Linked DNA regions of Homo sapiens. The protein of the gene in region 2 interacts with the protein of the main gene of each other region in a biochemical or structural test. Each region holds a gene or a part of one and is shown on either strand. Other genes may lie near its edges. The genes, in order: PMEPA1 and DCTN6.

The links.
Region 1: the proteins of DCTN6 (region 2) and PMEPA1 form a complex in vitro, tested with the Homo sapiens proteins (one study listed by BioGRID).

Annotation. Positions count from the first base shown.
Region 1 is NC_000020.11:57,657,506-57,665,643, forward strand, and holds part of PMEPA1 (protein TMEPAI), read right to left. Parts: intron 2,193-8,138; coding exon 2,038-2,192; intron 1-2,037. UniProt on the Homo sapiens protein: Functions as a negative regulator of TGF-beta signaling and thereby probably plays a role in cell proliferation, differentiation, apoptosis, motility, extracellular matrix production and immunosuppression.
Region 2 is NC_000008.11:30,151,559-30,160,121, reverse strand, and holds the start of DCTN6 (dynactin subunit 6), read right to left. Parts: upstream 3,754-8,563; 5' UTR 3,739-3,753; coding exon 3,716-3,738; exon of another isoform or gene 3,462-3,715; intron 2,951-3,461; exon of another isoform or gene 2,240-2,950; intron 2,099-2,239; exon of another isoform or gene 2,012-2,098; intron 1-2,011. UniProt on the Homo sapiens protein: Part of the dynactin complex that activates the molecular motor dynein for ultra-processive transport along microtubules.

The DNA.
Region 1 (8,138 bases), on a different chromosome or scaffold from region 2:
TTGCTGGAGTGGTAGCAACAGCAAATAAACACGTCGGGGCTTGAGAGCAGCAGGTCTGCAGCACGCCCTCCGGACAGCGTGCTGGGACGCACAGTGGGCCCCGGGTCTGTGGGCCAGGCATTCCCATCAGAGGTCCCAGGGCTGATGCTCCTTGCCCTGGCAACCTGGTGACGCACTGAGGCTGGGGCCTGATGCAAGCAGAGGTGTCCAGACCTGCCAGGGACAGGCCTTCCGGCTAGGGACTGTGGCCAACAGGCTTCTCAGCTGACTTGGCTCAGCCCAGGGACTCTGGGCGCCACCACCAACCCCAGGCGTCCCCAGAAGTGGGGAGGCCACACTCAGTGCTGCCTGTTCTGTGAGTCCTCCCCACACCTGGTGAGCCCCGGCTCAGAGACGTGCCGCAGCCCCAGGGCTGGCCACGTGCCACCTCCTCCCCACAGTTCCCAGCCTGCTCTTTAAACAGCCGCTTCCTGCCCCACGTGGTTGAGTTACACATCCTGGGTGCAGAGATGGAAGCCATTAAGAGATTAACTCTGTGCCGCCCTTTGGTCCACCTGCTGAAGGATACCGAACAGCCGGGCTTCAGGCGGCCGACATGGAGCCGGGAGTTCACCGTCAGAGGCGGGCAAGTTCCCACCGACCCAGATCTGCCCTGTTTGCCCCTGACTTTGTGGAGATTCGAAAGGGAAATTCTTGGGGTTTCCAGAACACCCACCAATGCTCACAACTCTGAGAGATCAACACCCAGGACTGTAATGGAGAGCGGGGTCCCTCCTGCAGGGCTCTGTCCTCCTCACACTCCCGCGCCCACTTCACCTGGTCCTGCACAGCACGGCCTCAAGAGCAGCTCGCCCCAACTTCCTGGCCACGGCCCTCGGCTTCCTTCATCCGTGCACCTGCTCCTGTCTGCGCCCATCCAACTCACCAGCAGCACCCCCTGGGACTGGCTCACAGCCACTTCCCAAACGCAGGGGGAATTTTGCATACCCCGTGTGTGTGCTGGGTAGAGATCTGTCAGGTGGATGGATGGATGGATGGAAGTGCTTTTATAGCCAGTAATGACCAGACCCGTGCTCTGTGCTAAAGCCCTGAATCTCTGGGGAGGTGGATGTGACTGTCAGCCCATTTTACAAATGGGGGATCTGAAGCCCCATTTTGTAGATCAGGGACAGGTCTGAGGGCACGTGGCCAGTACTGGTGGAGATGGGATTAAACTTAGGCCCCGGGACCTGGTGTCCTGTTGCCTCTATGGCTCTCCAAGGCATTGTGACCACATGACCAGATGTCAGCATAGCACGGGCACGAGGGCAGGGCCGCCACCTCCCTTCCGTCTGGGTCAGGGCTGCAGGACTGCAGGCACCTTTCCCACCACTACCCCGGTGGGTAAGAGCCAAATGCCGGCCCCTCGTCTCCACCATCCTGTTGTGTCAGGCCTCTGTGTGGACCCAGAATGCCTTCCTGTGCTGCCTGCCCCAGGTGCCTCCCTGCTTTCAGCCTCATCTCTCTAGGTCTGTCTCCACTCAGCCTCGAGAGATGTGGGTCAAGACGGGGGTCAGCTTGCGCTGCTTGTGAGCCCAGCCCTGCCTCCCTAGCCGAGGGTTCCTCGCAGAGGCTCCCCCAGGTCCCAGTGGTCGCATCTCCTGCATGGCGCTATCACCACTGGGCGTCTCATCTCCCTCCTGGAACGTCAGCTCCATGACAGCAAGGACCTGTGTGCTGCCCTCTCCCCAGGCCCTGCACAGAGCCTGCGACCCGAGGCTGCTCGAGAGTCAGCTGAGTGCGTGAGTGGATCACGAAGCCTCTTCCCAGCCCAGCTCTTCATTCCCCACGTTCCTCCAGCATCTCTGAGGCCCGCCTGGCGGGTGCTTTCCTCCCATTTCAGGGGAGGAAGCTGCTGTCAGGTGGGCTCCCCAGCCCCTGTCTTCCTGCCCTGAATCTGTTTCCTGCAAACGCTGCCATTGGATCCCGTCTGAGTTTTTACAAGGGGCGTCCCACTGCCGCACCCTCAGGCCACAGATGGGATGGCGGGGCACTTACTGAGGACAGGGCATCTTCTCTCCTCCGCCCCTGGCTGTGCCGGCTGATGAAGGACCGTGCAGACAGCTTGTAGTGGCTCAGCAGGCACGTGATCACCACCACCATCACCATCATCACCACCACGATGATGATGATCTGAACAAACTCCAGCTCCGCTGTGGAGACAAAGAGGGACACGTGAGACCCTGGACACCTGCAGGTCGCTGTGCTCAGGGCTCAGCCCTTTTGAGCTTTTTCACCCACCTAGGGGGACGAGAGTGCAACCCAGACTCAGGAAAGCCCCCGCCACTCTCCCGGCAAGGTCACAGGCGATGCCTGGGGCTGGGGTACGTGCAGGGAAGCTGCTCTCACGGCGGAGGAGGGGGTACTGCTGGCTGGGAGAGCACCTCAAAGGTGTCCTGGGACCCAGACACCCCCTCTGTAGGGACTGACCGGAAGGAGGTAACGGGACAGGCAGGAGGAAGGCCCTGCTCTCTGCTCTCAGAGCCTCCTGGAGCCGTTCTGCAGATGCACAGCGTGAGCTGACTGGCAGAAAGGGAGCCCTGCGCACTGGCTCCTGTCGCTGGGCAAAGGCTCGGGCAGACGGTCACAGACCCTTCTTAGGGGCCCAGGGAGGGAGCAGTTGGGAGGAGAAGGGGACCCCTGAGTGCGGAGAGAGGAAGTTGGCACTGAGTTTGGGAGTGAAGCTTTGTGGAATTAAACAAAGAGGAGCTACATGTGAACGTGTGTACACAAACCTATGCACACCTGACACTCCTACACATATGTCAACACACCAACACTCCTACACACACAACACCAACACAAATGCCCCAACACTCCTACACACACAACGCTCCTAAGTACACGTCAACACCAACACACACCCAACACTCCTACACAAATAACACCCCAACACGTACCCCTAACACTCCTACACACAAAACACCCCAACACTCCTACACACACAACACCCCAACACTCCTACACACACGTCAACAACGCTACATACTCCAACACTCCTACACACACGTCAACACCAACACATGACCCAACACTCCTACACAAATAACACCCCAACACGTACCCCTAACACTCCTACACACACAACACCCCAACACTACATACTCCAACACTCCTACACACACATCAACACCAACACATGACCCAACACTCCTACACAAATAACACCCCAACACGTACCCCTAACACTCCTACACACACAACACCCCAACACTCCTCCACACACAACACCCCAACACTCCTACACACACGTCAACAACACTACATACTCCAACACTCCTACACACACGTCAACACCAACACACGACCCAACACTCCTACACACATATCAACACCCCAACACACACCCCTCAACAGTCCCACACCCAAGTCAACATCCCAACACACACTTCCCAACAGACACAAACACACACAGACACAGCGCACCACACGTGCCCACACACACACATCCATCCCAGGACTCACAAACACACGCCACGCTCAACAGGACGGGGGTGTCAGGACCCTCCTCTTGGTGAAAAGGCCTCAGAAAACCCACATTCCAGATGGCTGCGGATGTTGCCATTCGCATTTTCTAAGGTTGGGTTTTTTTGTTTTTTCTTTTTTGGTTTTTGATTTGTTTTTCCCCTAGAAGGCGGAAAAACCCTCAAGTGCTGGAATAGGAAGAAGGTTATTTTGATCCTGCCTGAGCCGGGCAGTTTCTGCTGACTCAAGCGGGTCTGTGCCGAAGCGGCCTCGGCAGCTGGCCGAGCACGGTGCCAGCAGAGCCCCCAGCAATGGGCAAGACGCCGGGTCCCTTGGAGTTGACACGGCAGAGTGGGCACCAGCCGGCAGCGTCCGGGGCCAAAGCTCCTCCAGCTTCGCCCTGCCCAGGACACCCTGCCCAAGGTGTGCAGGAATGTGACTCCCCAGACCCCGGCTGGCATGGGGGCAAGGAGGACTCCCCAGGGCTCCCTGGCACTAACAAGCAATTAGCCAGGCTCCCTGGGGGCCCCAGTTCAAGCCCAGTGCCACTGACTCAGTTCCTCCTCCTCCCAGGACCGAGGAACCAAAGCCGGGGGAGGGGGATCGGGGTGGGCAGGTGTCAGGTGGCAACTGGAGAAAAAACAGGCCGTGCAGAGCCGATGCCAGGCGCTCGGGCCATCAGACAGCCCAGGCAAGCACACTCCAAACCCGGGGGGCCCAGCCATCTCCTGCCACCAGCCTCGCTCTCCCCAAGGCAGGAAAGCAGCCCATCCTAGGTGGGAATGTCACTGTCTGTGAAGTGGCAGACGCCTCTCCACACAGAAGCACTCCCACACCTGTGTCCACTGCCACTCCTTCTTCCCCAACAGGTTTTCCAGAACTTCCCCGTCTCGGGCACTTTATGCATCTGTGCCACCCTCAGCGCGCCATTGTCTACACTGCTACTGAGCCAGTGTTTCTCAGCTGGGGCCGCGTCTGCACCCAGGGCTCAGCGTGCCACTGTCTACACTGCTACTGAGCCCGTGTTTCTCAGCTGGGGCCGCATCTGCACCCAGGGCTCAGCGCGCCATTGTCTACACTGCTAATGAGCCAGTGTTTCTCAGCTGGGGCCACGTCTGCACCCAGGGAACATGTGGCGATGTCTGGAGCCATTTTTGGTTGTCACAACTGGGGGGTACTCCTGGCATGGAGTGGGTGGAGGCCAGGGGCTGTGGTAACCGTCCTGCACCGACAGGACTGTCCCCCATGACAAAGAATGATCCAATCCAGTCGGTCATGCTGTGGGCTGAGCACACCTAAGAACGGGCGTTTTTATTATCATCCCCATTTCACGGGTGAGGAGACACGGGCTCAGAGGGAAAAGTGATTGCCTCGAGAAGTCCAAGACCCTAGAGCTGGCGCGTCCTCCCACTAGGCTTGGTGGGGCTTTCCCAAGCCCCGAGAAGGCTTCGGCCCTGCCTGCTGGGAACTCAGGCCCCAAGCCCTGGGCCGCCTGTGGGACACCCGCATGTTCCTGGCCAGGAGAGATCAGGCTTCAGACCCAGGTCGCTGTGGCCACACCTCCTGTCTCCCCAGACAGGCAGGTCCAGGGCCGGGGCAGCCTGGCCTGATTCTGTAGGGCCCAGGTCCGTCTGTTAGCACTCAGGATAAAGCCGCATTCAGGGTACACACAGGGCTGGCTTTGTGTAACACCCACGCCCCCCCACCCCCGGGGCCTGCAATTCCCTGCCCCCCAACCCTGTGCACTCTTCACCCCAGTTCCCCCTTCCCCAGCTGTCTCCAGGGGCCCAGCCCACATCAGCCCTGGAGGGAGGGAGGTGTGTGGCTGTTTTTGTCCCTGTCCCGGGCCCTGGCAGCCCGCAGGACCCAGACAGCAGTGAGACGGTAGCTGGGGCTGCAGGGCCGGTGGGATGCAGGGGCAATGGAGGAGGCCCCTGCAGACTGAATGGGTGTGGACAAACCCTCACGGCTCTCCTGGCCCCGCCAGGCTCGGCCCCAGGGGCAGGGGGATCTGACTTTTGGACGTCTGTATCCACAGAGTGAGAAAAACGCTCCCAGAAATGAGCACCGGGCTCAGTAGCGCATAAGAGCGTCACCCTGGTCCCTGGGCCACCAACTCCCATTGGGTCACTGGCCCAGGAAAATTCACATGGGAGAGGAGAGAGAAAAACTCTCTAGAAAAGAGAAACTACAACTGACTGCTGGCTAGACTTGGTGAGCCAAGGGCCTGGGTCCAGGCTTAGGGAGATGGAGATTTGCAAGGGTTGCCGAGACTACGGCTCAGGAGCACCCTGGAGAGGAGCAGGGTGGTGGCAGGGAAGCACAGTGGCTCTCTCAGAGGGCCCGGGTCCCAGCCTGGCTCTTGGGGGCCCTCTCTGAGTCCATCGCAGTCTCCCTGTGTCAGCGGGGGGACGGTGGGCAGCAGGGGGACAGTGGGCAGCAGGATGTGCGGGGGACATGTGCTCAGCATGTAGTGCTCCCTGGAGGTGGACCCAGACACGGGATGCTCAATTCCATCCTGGCTCCACCAGAACAAGGGTGGCCCAAACCCATCCACCCTCAAAGAGACATGACCTGCTCTGGAATCGCAGAGGGAGCATCTAATGGAAGACCCTGGAGGGCTCCCTGTAAGGTGGGCACTGAGGCTTTTGGTGCAGGGCACGGAGTGCGGGGCAGAGTGGAGCACAGGCAGAGGGTATAGGTGAGCAGAGGCCGGAACCCAGACCCTCCTGGATGCCCCTGGACATGCCCAGACCTGGAGGTGTTGAGGGGGGCAAGAGAGGTGCTCCAGCCAGCAGCCGGGTCACCCCCACCCATCAGGAAGGCAACACCCTGGGCCAAGGAGGCCCCGAAATCTCCATCCAGCTCCAGTCAAGCCCCACCGGCGCGGATGCTGTGCGGGAGGAAGGCTGGTCAGGCACAGCAGCATTGGGGCCCACAAACAGGTCCAACGAAGACCACCCTTGGGCATGGGGTGAGGAGGCACCTTCCACGCACTTTCACACCCATGGTGCTGCTTCCAGGAGACGCTCAGCTTTAGGGGACAGGAATGCATTCTCTGGGGAGTGGACCATGCAGTGCCTGCTGGCGAGGTCGGTCGCAAACCAGAGACCCAAGGGCACGCGCACCGACCGTCCCTGGCCCCAGCCGTGTTCCCACCTGGCATCACGGGAGCAGGGCTGTGGGCAGCCACCCTCTCCACAGGCCTGGTCCCGGGACTCACCTGGCCTGGGACAGCCACGCCCTGACACTGTCGGTCCCCACCCCACACCACCCCAGGGATGCCTGAGACTCAGCATGCGGGCCTCTACGACGCACTGATCAGGGCCCACTCAGGCCGAGTTCATCAAGCATGGGCTCCCTCCCCACACTAAGTCCCACACATCCCTCTGGGCAGGCACCGTGAATCCACCAGCAAAGACCCCTTGGGGGAGAGAAAGGTGCCTCCCCGCAAAGGCCTTGGAGTCAAGTTCAAAACATGATGTGTGTATGAAGCGGCACCAATATAAACACGGCTCTCCACCCGCGGCAGCTCGCAGAATCCTCTTCGTGCCTGCATTTGTTCCGAGGAGCGCAGGGAGGCTGCTGGGGCCCATTCCCAGTCGCAGCTTGAGAGCCGGACTCTCAGGATCAGATGCCTCGCGGGCAAGGGAAGGAACCCCAGCAGGACTGCCAACGCGAGGCGGAAGGAGAGAAGGCCCAGCGCGGCCGCATCCCTCCCTCTCTCCAGAGGACCCTGGAGCCGGCTGTGAAGCTGTGGTCCTTTAAGGCTGGAACCTCATTTAAGAGTTTTAAAAGGGCCAAGCAGGCCACACCCAAGGCATCTGCAGGGCAGGCGGCTTCAGGACTTCTGGCCAAGAGTTGGGCCCCAGGTCACTTAGTGACTACTGGCAGATATGGAGCCACACCAATCCTGCCTCAGTTTCCCTAATCTGACAGACTGCCCCTTTACCAAGGCATGGACAAAGACATCCCAGATCAAATGCCCAGTATGACACCTGCAGGGGTGGGTCCTACCACTGTCCCTGACCTAGGCTCAACTCTGCTGTGACCACAGGACACATTGCCAAGCAGTCATAGGCCACAGGGGACAGAGCAGGAGAGGGCACACCCAAACTCACTGTAGTCACTGTAAGTATTGTCATGATTCTAACACATGACCCGGGGCCACTGAGCTGAGCCTCCCCAATTTAGGTAACATCACCATGCCCATTTTGCAGATGAAGAAACTGAGGCTTAGGGAGAAGTAGCCCTAGAAGATGCAACTAGGAGCAAGGTTGAGACTTGAGCCCAGAGCCGCCATATAGGAACTCAAAAGGGGGAAGGGTTTCATTCTCCTGCTAAATTTTCCTAGCTCGCCCACGGCGTTAGTCCGCCCGCCCCCTGCCCCGGGAATCTGAGGATGTGGTTCTGATGTTCTGGTCCAGTCCTCGTGCATCCATTGTCTGTGTGATGCTGTGCGCATCTACCTCCTTGAGAGGAAGTTACCTCATCTGTCAAAAAAAAAAAAAAAAAAGAACCAACCGGGGCAGGGGTGAAATAATGGATGCGAGAGCTCAGAACGGGACAGAACGTAGCACACTCAACTGTCACCATTGTCACAATTACTGACACTCCTCTGGGGACAAAAAGCA
Region 2 (8,563 bases):
GCATGGAGTGAAATAAGGAAACTGGTGCCATCTTGTCCCCTTCCTGGGAAGGGATGATTCCTGATGGAGAGGGAAGCTCAAATTCCAGGGCTCAAAATCAGCTGCTGTGACTCTGCTTCACTTATGCCAGAAAAACAACCAAAACCAGCCTGGGTCACATGGTAAAACCCCATCTCTACAAAAAATACAAAAATTAGCTGGGTATGGTGGCTTACACCTGTACTCCCAGCTACTTGGGGGGCTGAGGCGGGAGGATCGCTTGAGCCCAGGAGGTAGAGGTTGCAGTGAGCTGAGATTGCACCACTGCACTCCAGCCTGGGTGATGGAGTGAAACCCTGTCTCAAAAAAAAAAAAAAAAGAAAACTAATCAAAAGTCTGGAGCTAGGGAGCAAGGTCAAAGCCTCTAGGTTTCTGATCTGGAAAACTAATGGCACCATCTGAGAATAGCCTATGGGAGGAGGGGTAGATTTTAGAGAAAAAAGTCATTTGGCTAAATTTTAGATAAACTCAGTCTGAGGTATCTATGGAATGGTCACCAGATATATCCAATAAGCGACTGAAAATACAGATTCTGAAGCTCATAAGAGAGTTCTAAAAATACAGCTCTGAGAGTCAGAAGGGTAAAGATTCTTTCATTAACATGTCTCTCCATCATTTCTATGCCAGAATCTTCCCCCCAAGTATTCCCTAATATACATGCAAAGTAAGATGAAAACTATTTTTAAGATTGTACCAACTTCCCTACTGGTGTGATGAACTAAAAAAAAAAGAAGACATACACAAATTTTTCTTCCACAAATTAGGGTGGACAAACCTTCACACCGCCATGAATTTTTAAAGCTCTAAGTAAACAAAAAAACATGTATCAAATAGAAAAAACTAATAATCCCTGAGTCTATCTTCAAGAAATGGTTTTGAGAATAGACACAGCTCCAGCTGTTTCCATCATTTTGTTAGGCTCTGACTTTTTATAAGGCGTAAGTCAATGAAATCCTACCAATGGTCCTTCTGGGTGATACAGCCTGTCAAGAGTCAATCTGGGCCAGGTGCAGTGGCTCACGCCTGTAATCCCACCACTTTGGGAGGCCGAGGTGGGCAGATTCCTTGAGGTCAGGAGTTCGAGATCAGCCTGGCCAACATGGTGAAACCCCATCTCTACTAAAAATACAAAAATTAGCCAGGTGTGGTGGTGGGTGCCTGTAGTCCCAGCTACTCTGGAGACTGAGGCAGGATGATCGCTTGAACCCAGGAGGCAAAGGTTGCAGTGAGCAGAGATTGTGCCACTGCACTCCAGCCTAGGCAACAGAGTGAGACTCCGTCTCAAAAAAAAAAAAAAAAAAAAAGGAACCAGGCATGGTGCAAAGCTTTCACTGCACTCCAGCCTGAGCGACTCTGTCTCACAAAAAAAAAAAAAAAAAAAGTCAATCTACTGAAATAACAGAAAATATGTAGCCCTCCTGCTGTATTGAAGAAGAAAGATTTTAGTAAGATTAGAAGAAAATCACCTGGTCTAACCCTCTCATATTATAGAAGAAAAAACTGAAATTCAGAGACTAGAAATTTCTTGGAGCAGAGTTCATTCCTGGGGCATCACTGTCCTGAAATCAGTCATCTGTCTTCTAGTTGAAAGTTTTCTGGAAACATCCTGTCACTCCAGATGTTTTTCCATGATAAATGAGCGACACTGTCCTTGAATGTATCACCAGCTGTAAATGTCATTTCTCTGATACTTTTCATTTAAAGTGGGTTTTTTTTGTTAAAATATGCAATTTTATTAAGCCCTGGTCAAATACATTAGCCTCTATAAAATGTCTCTTGTTTTAGACCTTATTTCTCATTGCAATTTTCCATTTCCTCAGCTTCCTTCTCATTATGAAAAGAGCATTATCTAACATTGAACTTGTCCTGGGCAACTGAGAGTAGGAGAGACTCACAAATGCCCCCTGCCTTCAGTTTTACGCCCAAGGGAGAGATCCCAGGTAATGCTTGCGTCACAATCAGCACACTTCTCAGTGGGGCAGGCCACTAGGCCAACTAAAACGTGGTCCCGATATCTCTGCAAGGACCCCTTGTATCTCGGAGTGGTGGGAGCAGAGAGGTGAGCCGGCAGATGGGAGGGCAAGACTTAACCTCAGATCTGTAAAAGTAACAAGTCAACAATACCTTAATCTTCACTGTAAGCTACTATCTACTGCTATCTACTGCACATAATATTTATAGTACATCTGTTCCTCTTTAGCTTATGAAAAAAGATTACAGAGTATCTACTTAAATGGAAGAAAAATCTACATTTTAATTTATGGCACCAGAAACAATGTCAGTTTTCTTTGTCAAAAATAGTCAGCAGAGGGAGCTCAACACTGCTGCTGTTCGAAATGGCTTTACTTATGCACTTGTCTCATCCCAGCCACCAACAGCCACCAACAGCCCCCAGCAATGAAGACTACCGGAGAAGAAGCCAAACTTCCTGTCCCCACATGTTTACAAAGGAGCTTGTCCACTCCACGCCTGGCAAAAAATGTCACAGTTCTAAGCTTATACACTATTGGTGGGAATATAAATTAGTTCATCTATTGAAAATAGTATGGTGATTTCTCAAAGGACTAAACACAAGTACCATTGGACCCAGCAATCCATATAGAGCTACCAATCCAAACGGAACTACCATTCGACCCAGGATCTACTCAAAGGAAACCATTGTATTAAAAAGACAACTGCACTCCTATGACTATCACTGTACTATTCACAATAGCAAAGTATGGAATCAACCTAAGTGTTCATCAACGGATGACTGGATAAAGGAAATGTGGTGTATCTATACGATGGAATACTACAGAGCCATCAAAAAGAAAGGAAACATGTCTTTTGCAACAACATGGATGGAACTGGAGGCCATTACCTTACGCGATAACTCAGAAATAAAATCAAATGCACATGTTCTCACTTTTAAGTGGGAGCTAAAATGAGTACACATAAACATAAAGAGGGAAATAACAGACACTGGGGACTCTAAAAGCAGCGAGGGTAGGAGGGGTTTGAGGGCTGAAAAATTACCCATCTGATACAATGTTCACTATTTGGGTGGTAAGTACACTAGAAGCCAACTTCACCATTACGCAATTTATCTATGCAACAAATCTGCGCAAGTACTCCTTGCATCTATATAATGTGTGTGTGTGTGTGTCACAGTTCAAGTCCAGGCGCGGCCCCCCTTTTGACAGCGACCGTAAATCCCTTTACACACCCCACCCTCCAGAGACAGGAAGGGCCTGGGGTGCGGCCAGCACTGGCGTGGGGGTCTCGCAACATGCAGCAGAGAATCCAGCGCCAAGCCGTGGGGTACAGCGGCGCCAAGCACCGCCGATTATGCGGGAGAAGGGAGCCGGCCTTCCCCAGGAAAAAGCTGACGTCACCCTCCCCTCACAGCCCCCCCCGCCCTCCCGGCCGGGAGACCCCCTCTGCGCAGGCGCATGTGGGGAGGGACGGCCAGACAGGAACAAAAACCTTCCAGGCAGCGACTCCGCGTCCCTTCTCAACCCTCCCCGCCCCCACTCCGTCGCCCCCTCCCTCAGTGGACGCCAGGTCTGGGCTTCAGGTACCTTCGGCCCGAATGCCCAGGATGAGACACCTTCTGAGTCGCCACCATTGGCGACCAGGAACAGGTTCCACCCCTACGGAAAGCTGAGAAAAGGCTTTTCTCAAGCAGCAAACCCACCTCTTTTGAGTCTTCTCCGCCATGGTACGGCCCCAATTGGAACGTAGATCGACACCACCGCCTGGGTAGAGCGATAATTCCACATGCGATTGGAGAGCCTGGCAGGGTTGGGGGAGGGGCGGAGCCGGGGTGGGGCGGGGACCCGGAAGCTTGCGACTCTTGTTTGCGTCGCGTCTGGGCGCACAGGACTGTACTTTTGGTAGCGGTGCGGGGCCGCCCGCGGACTTTAGCCCTGCATAGAGATGGGTAGACCCTAATTTGGAACAGCCATTGACTGGGCACAGGCCAGCACTTTGGGAGGCCGAGAGGCCGAGGCAGGAGGATCGCTTGAGGCCAGGAGTGCCAGACTGCGAGACTAGCCTGGGTAACATAGTGAGACCCTCTCTTCAAAAAAAAAAAAAAAAAAAAAAAAAAAAAGCCTGTCACGGTGGCCTGCGCCTGTACCCCAGCTACTCGAGAGGATCGCCTGAGCCCAGTGAAGCTGCAGCGAGCTGTGAGGATGCCACCGCACTCCGGCCTGGGCTAAAAAGCTAGATCGTGTCTCTGATAAAAGAATAAAAGCTGTTTATTGCAATCCAGTCCGCGTCATTATGCCCTCATTTTACCCACTCGCGTAGGCGTAATTACACCCTAAAGGTATTTCTCTGACCTCGCCGATGTCCTTTTCAGCCTGTCTTTCTCTACTCATTAGGGCTCCTTCTGGCCCTTTTCTCGCTCTATATGAGTGCATCCTTCCTATAGGTTAAGTGCCCTCTACCTGTTTGCTCTCTAATGAATGTCTCTGGTTCTGCCCTCTGTGCCGATCTTCACACCTGACATTCGGTTGACTAATTGACATCTCCGCTCAGAGTCGTATCGAACCTAAAACTTACAGAACATGACTTTCGATTAACACTGCCGTCCTCCCTGCAACCTGCTGCTTTTTTGATCCACACCATTTGCCTAGCTGCTCAAGCCAGACACTCAAGAGTCACCCTGGCACTCCTCACCCCTACATCTGTAATAGATCTGCAAGTTCTGCTTGTCCTACCTCGGGTCTCATGCTTACACTTTTGTCTACCGGACCATCTCTCTAATCTCAGCCGATGTGTCTCTCCCAGTTGTTCACTCATTCTGTACTTGGCCTCTGAAATCACACCTCCTCATCTCCCACCCCCAACCCTGATCCAAGTAGTTCTCTTGTAGTCAAAATCATCCTTTAAAAGACAAATTGAGGCCAGGCGCGTGGCTCAAACCGGTAATCCCAGCACTTTGGGGGGCCGAGATGGGAGGATCGCTTGAGGCCAGGAGTTGGAGACCAGCCTGGTCAACACAGCATGATCCCGTCTCTATATATTTTTTCTATAATGTATTTTTTTAATGGAAAAAAATTAAAAATAAGAGCCAAATTCAGTTATTTCCCCTTCCTCTTAAAATCTAAAATCCAAACTGCTTTCCATAACCTATCTCTGAGCTACATCCAGCCCCTGCCTACTTCTCTCTTTCTCTTTCTATGTGTTCGATCACACCCTCATTCTCCAAAAAAGCAAAGCTGACTCTCCACCCCCAACCGCTTCCACTTGCCCCCACCCTAACACCTTCTGACCCTTTATGTCTCGGATGTCACATACTCAGTTTCCAACCAGAGAAACAGAACTAGTAGTAGATGGATATCAAAAGGCTTATTGTAAGGAATTGGCTTACATGATTGTGGAGCCCCAGCTAAGCAAGTCCAAAATCTGTACACTAAGCTGGAACTCTCATGCAAGGGGTGAGGCTGTTGTTCACAGGAGGAATTTCTTCAGGGAAGCCCATCTCAGCTCTTATGGCCTTCAACTGATTGAATCAGGCCCACCCAGATTAGCTAGGATAATCTCTCTTCCTTAAAGTGAACTGATGATGGGCTTTAATCACATCCACAAAAATACCTTTACAGCAGCATCTAGATTAGTGTTTGACTAATGACTTGGGAATGTAGCCTAACCAAGTTGACACAAAAAACTGACCATCACACTCAGGGAAACCCTCCTTGACTGTCTTAGTTCTTTCTGGCTGCTATAACAAAATACAGTTGGCCCTTTGTATCTGTGGGTTTGACATCTGTGACTGGTTGACAGCAACCCACGTTGGATCAAAAATTTGGGGGAAAAAATTACGCAAGTTTCCAAAAAGCAAAACTTGAATTTGCTGCATGCCAAGTGCTACATTGAAGCCACATGAATGAAGTGATATGTAGGAATTGTATTAGATATTCTGAATAATATAAAGATGATTGAAAGGATATGGGAGGATATGCATCAGTTAGTTATATGCAAATACTACACCATTTTATATCAGGGGCTTGAGCATCTGCAGATTTTGGCATCAGGGTGTCCAGGAACCAGTTCCCCAAGCATACTGAGGGACAGTTATACCTTAGACTGGGTATAGTAGTCCTTTCTTATCCTCGGGGGATACATTCCAAGACCTCTAGTGGATGCCTGAAACCACAGATAATACTGAACCCTCTATATACTATGCACACATTTCCTTTTCCTCATTAACAGTTTCATGGGTAAAAGATTTATTCTTACCATAGATCTTAGCAACCTCAGCATATAGTTTTTTTTCTTTCCTTTTGAAATCAAGAAGTTTTCACATTTTCACTTAAAGCATTTTACAGTTTCTCTTTGGCAGATCCAAATCACCTGCATCGCTACTTTTGTGCTTTGGGGCCATTATGAAGTAAAATAAGAGTGACTTGAACACAAGTACTCTGATACTGCAACAATGTATCTGATAACTGAGAAAGCTTTAATGGGCAGGTAGTACCAACAGTGTGGATACAAAGGGATGATTCATGTTCTTGCCTAGAGAGAGCAGCATGGTACGAGAGTTCATCATGCTACTCAAAATGGTGTGCAATTTAAAACTCACAAATTGTTTATTTCTGGAATTTTCTATTTAATATTTTTGGACTGATGTTGACTACAGGTTACTGAAACCACAGAAGATGAAACCATGGATAAGTGCGACTACTGTTATTTATAAACAAAGACATTTATTGCTCACAGTCCTAGAGGCTGGGGAGTCCAAGATCAAAGCGCTGGACATTCTGTGTCTGATGAGAGCCCTCATCACCTAATCACCTCCCAAATGTCCCACCTCTTAATTGCCAAGTAGTCAATAAAATATCAGATGTGAGGCTCGGCAGAGAGGACAGAACCTTGAAGGTATTATTTCAACATATGAATTCTGGAGGGACAAAAACATTCAGACCATAGCACCATCTAATCAAAAATAGGCTACCCTTCCTATTCTAATTATTTTCTCTGTGGGGTAAGGATTGCACTCATCACCAGCTATACTTACTTATCTTACCATTTCCTCCAAAGACTTAAGTTCCATGAAGTTAGAGCCATGTGAGTTTTGTTCCCACTCTTTACTCAGCACCAACCACAGTGCCTGGTGCATGGTTGATATTCCTCTAAACTTGTTGAATAAGTATATGAATGAATTTAGAGTGTTTTGTCACTGCCAACCATGTAAACACCTATCCATTTTCAAGCAATGTGTATTTATATTAATTTGAAAGACTTCTATGGCATACTTATAAAGGATCATTTTATCAGTATTAGGTACAGTGTCTAGGGCCTATAGGCTTTTTGGGGATCAACGAACTGTTTGAAACCTGAAAATAAAATGTACTGATTCCAGAATGTAAACCGTACAGGTAGGAATTAATTAATGCTAAGGCCAGGCACAGTGGCTCACGCCTGTAACCCCAGTTCTTTGGGAAGCTGAGGCAGGTGGATTGTTTGAGTTAGGAGTTCGAGACTAGCCTGGGCAACATGGCAAAACTCTGTCTCTACAAAAAATACAAAAATTAGCGAGGCATGGTGGCACGTGCCTGTAGCCCCAGCTACTTGGGGCCTGAGGTGGGAGGATCACTTGAGTCCGGGAGGTCAAAGTTGCAATGAGCCAAGATCATGCCAGTGCACTCCAGCCTGGGCAACAGAGCAAGAGCCTGTCTCGATAATAAAATAAATAAATGCACACATACTTTTTTTTTTTTTTTGAGATGGAGTTTCACTCTTGTTGCCCAGGCTGGAGTGCAATGGCGTGATCTCGGCTCACTGCAACCTCCACCTCCTGGATTCAGGTGATTCTCCTGCCTCAGCCTTCTGAGTAGCTGGAATTATAGGCACCTGCCACCATGCCTGGCCTTTTTTTTTTTTTTTTTTTTTTTTTTTTTTGGATTTTTATTAGAGACAGAGTTTCACCATGTTGGCCAGGCTGGTCTTGAACTCTTGACCTCAGGTGATCCACCTGCCTCTGCCTCCCAAAGTGCTGGGATTACAGGCATGAGTCACTGTGTCCAAACCCACACGTACATACTTAATTCAATGTCTACAAAGCAACTTTTTTCTTAACTAATCAACTGCAATTCAACTCTTCTATACCTAGAAATTATATTTGATGTGGGATTTGGTTTCATTCAATATGTTTAATATGATGTTATCTTATTTAGTTCCTTAGGGAGCCCTCTTCTTCCCTGTTGGGAATAGGCCCCCAAAATCTGGTCATAAACTGGCCCCAAAACTGGCCATAAACAAAATATCTGCAACACTGTGACATGTTCGTGATGGCCATGACGCCCACGCTGGAAGATTGTGGGTTTACCAGAATGAGGGCAAGGAACACCTGGCCCACCCAGAGCAGAAAACCCCTTAAAGGTGTTCTTAAACCACAAACAATAGCATGAGCGATCTGTGCCTTAAGGACATGCTCCTGCTGCAGATAACTAGCCAAACCCATTCCTTTATTTCAGCCCATCCCTTTATTTCCCGTAAGGAATATCTTTAGTTAATCTATAGAAACAATGCTTAT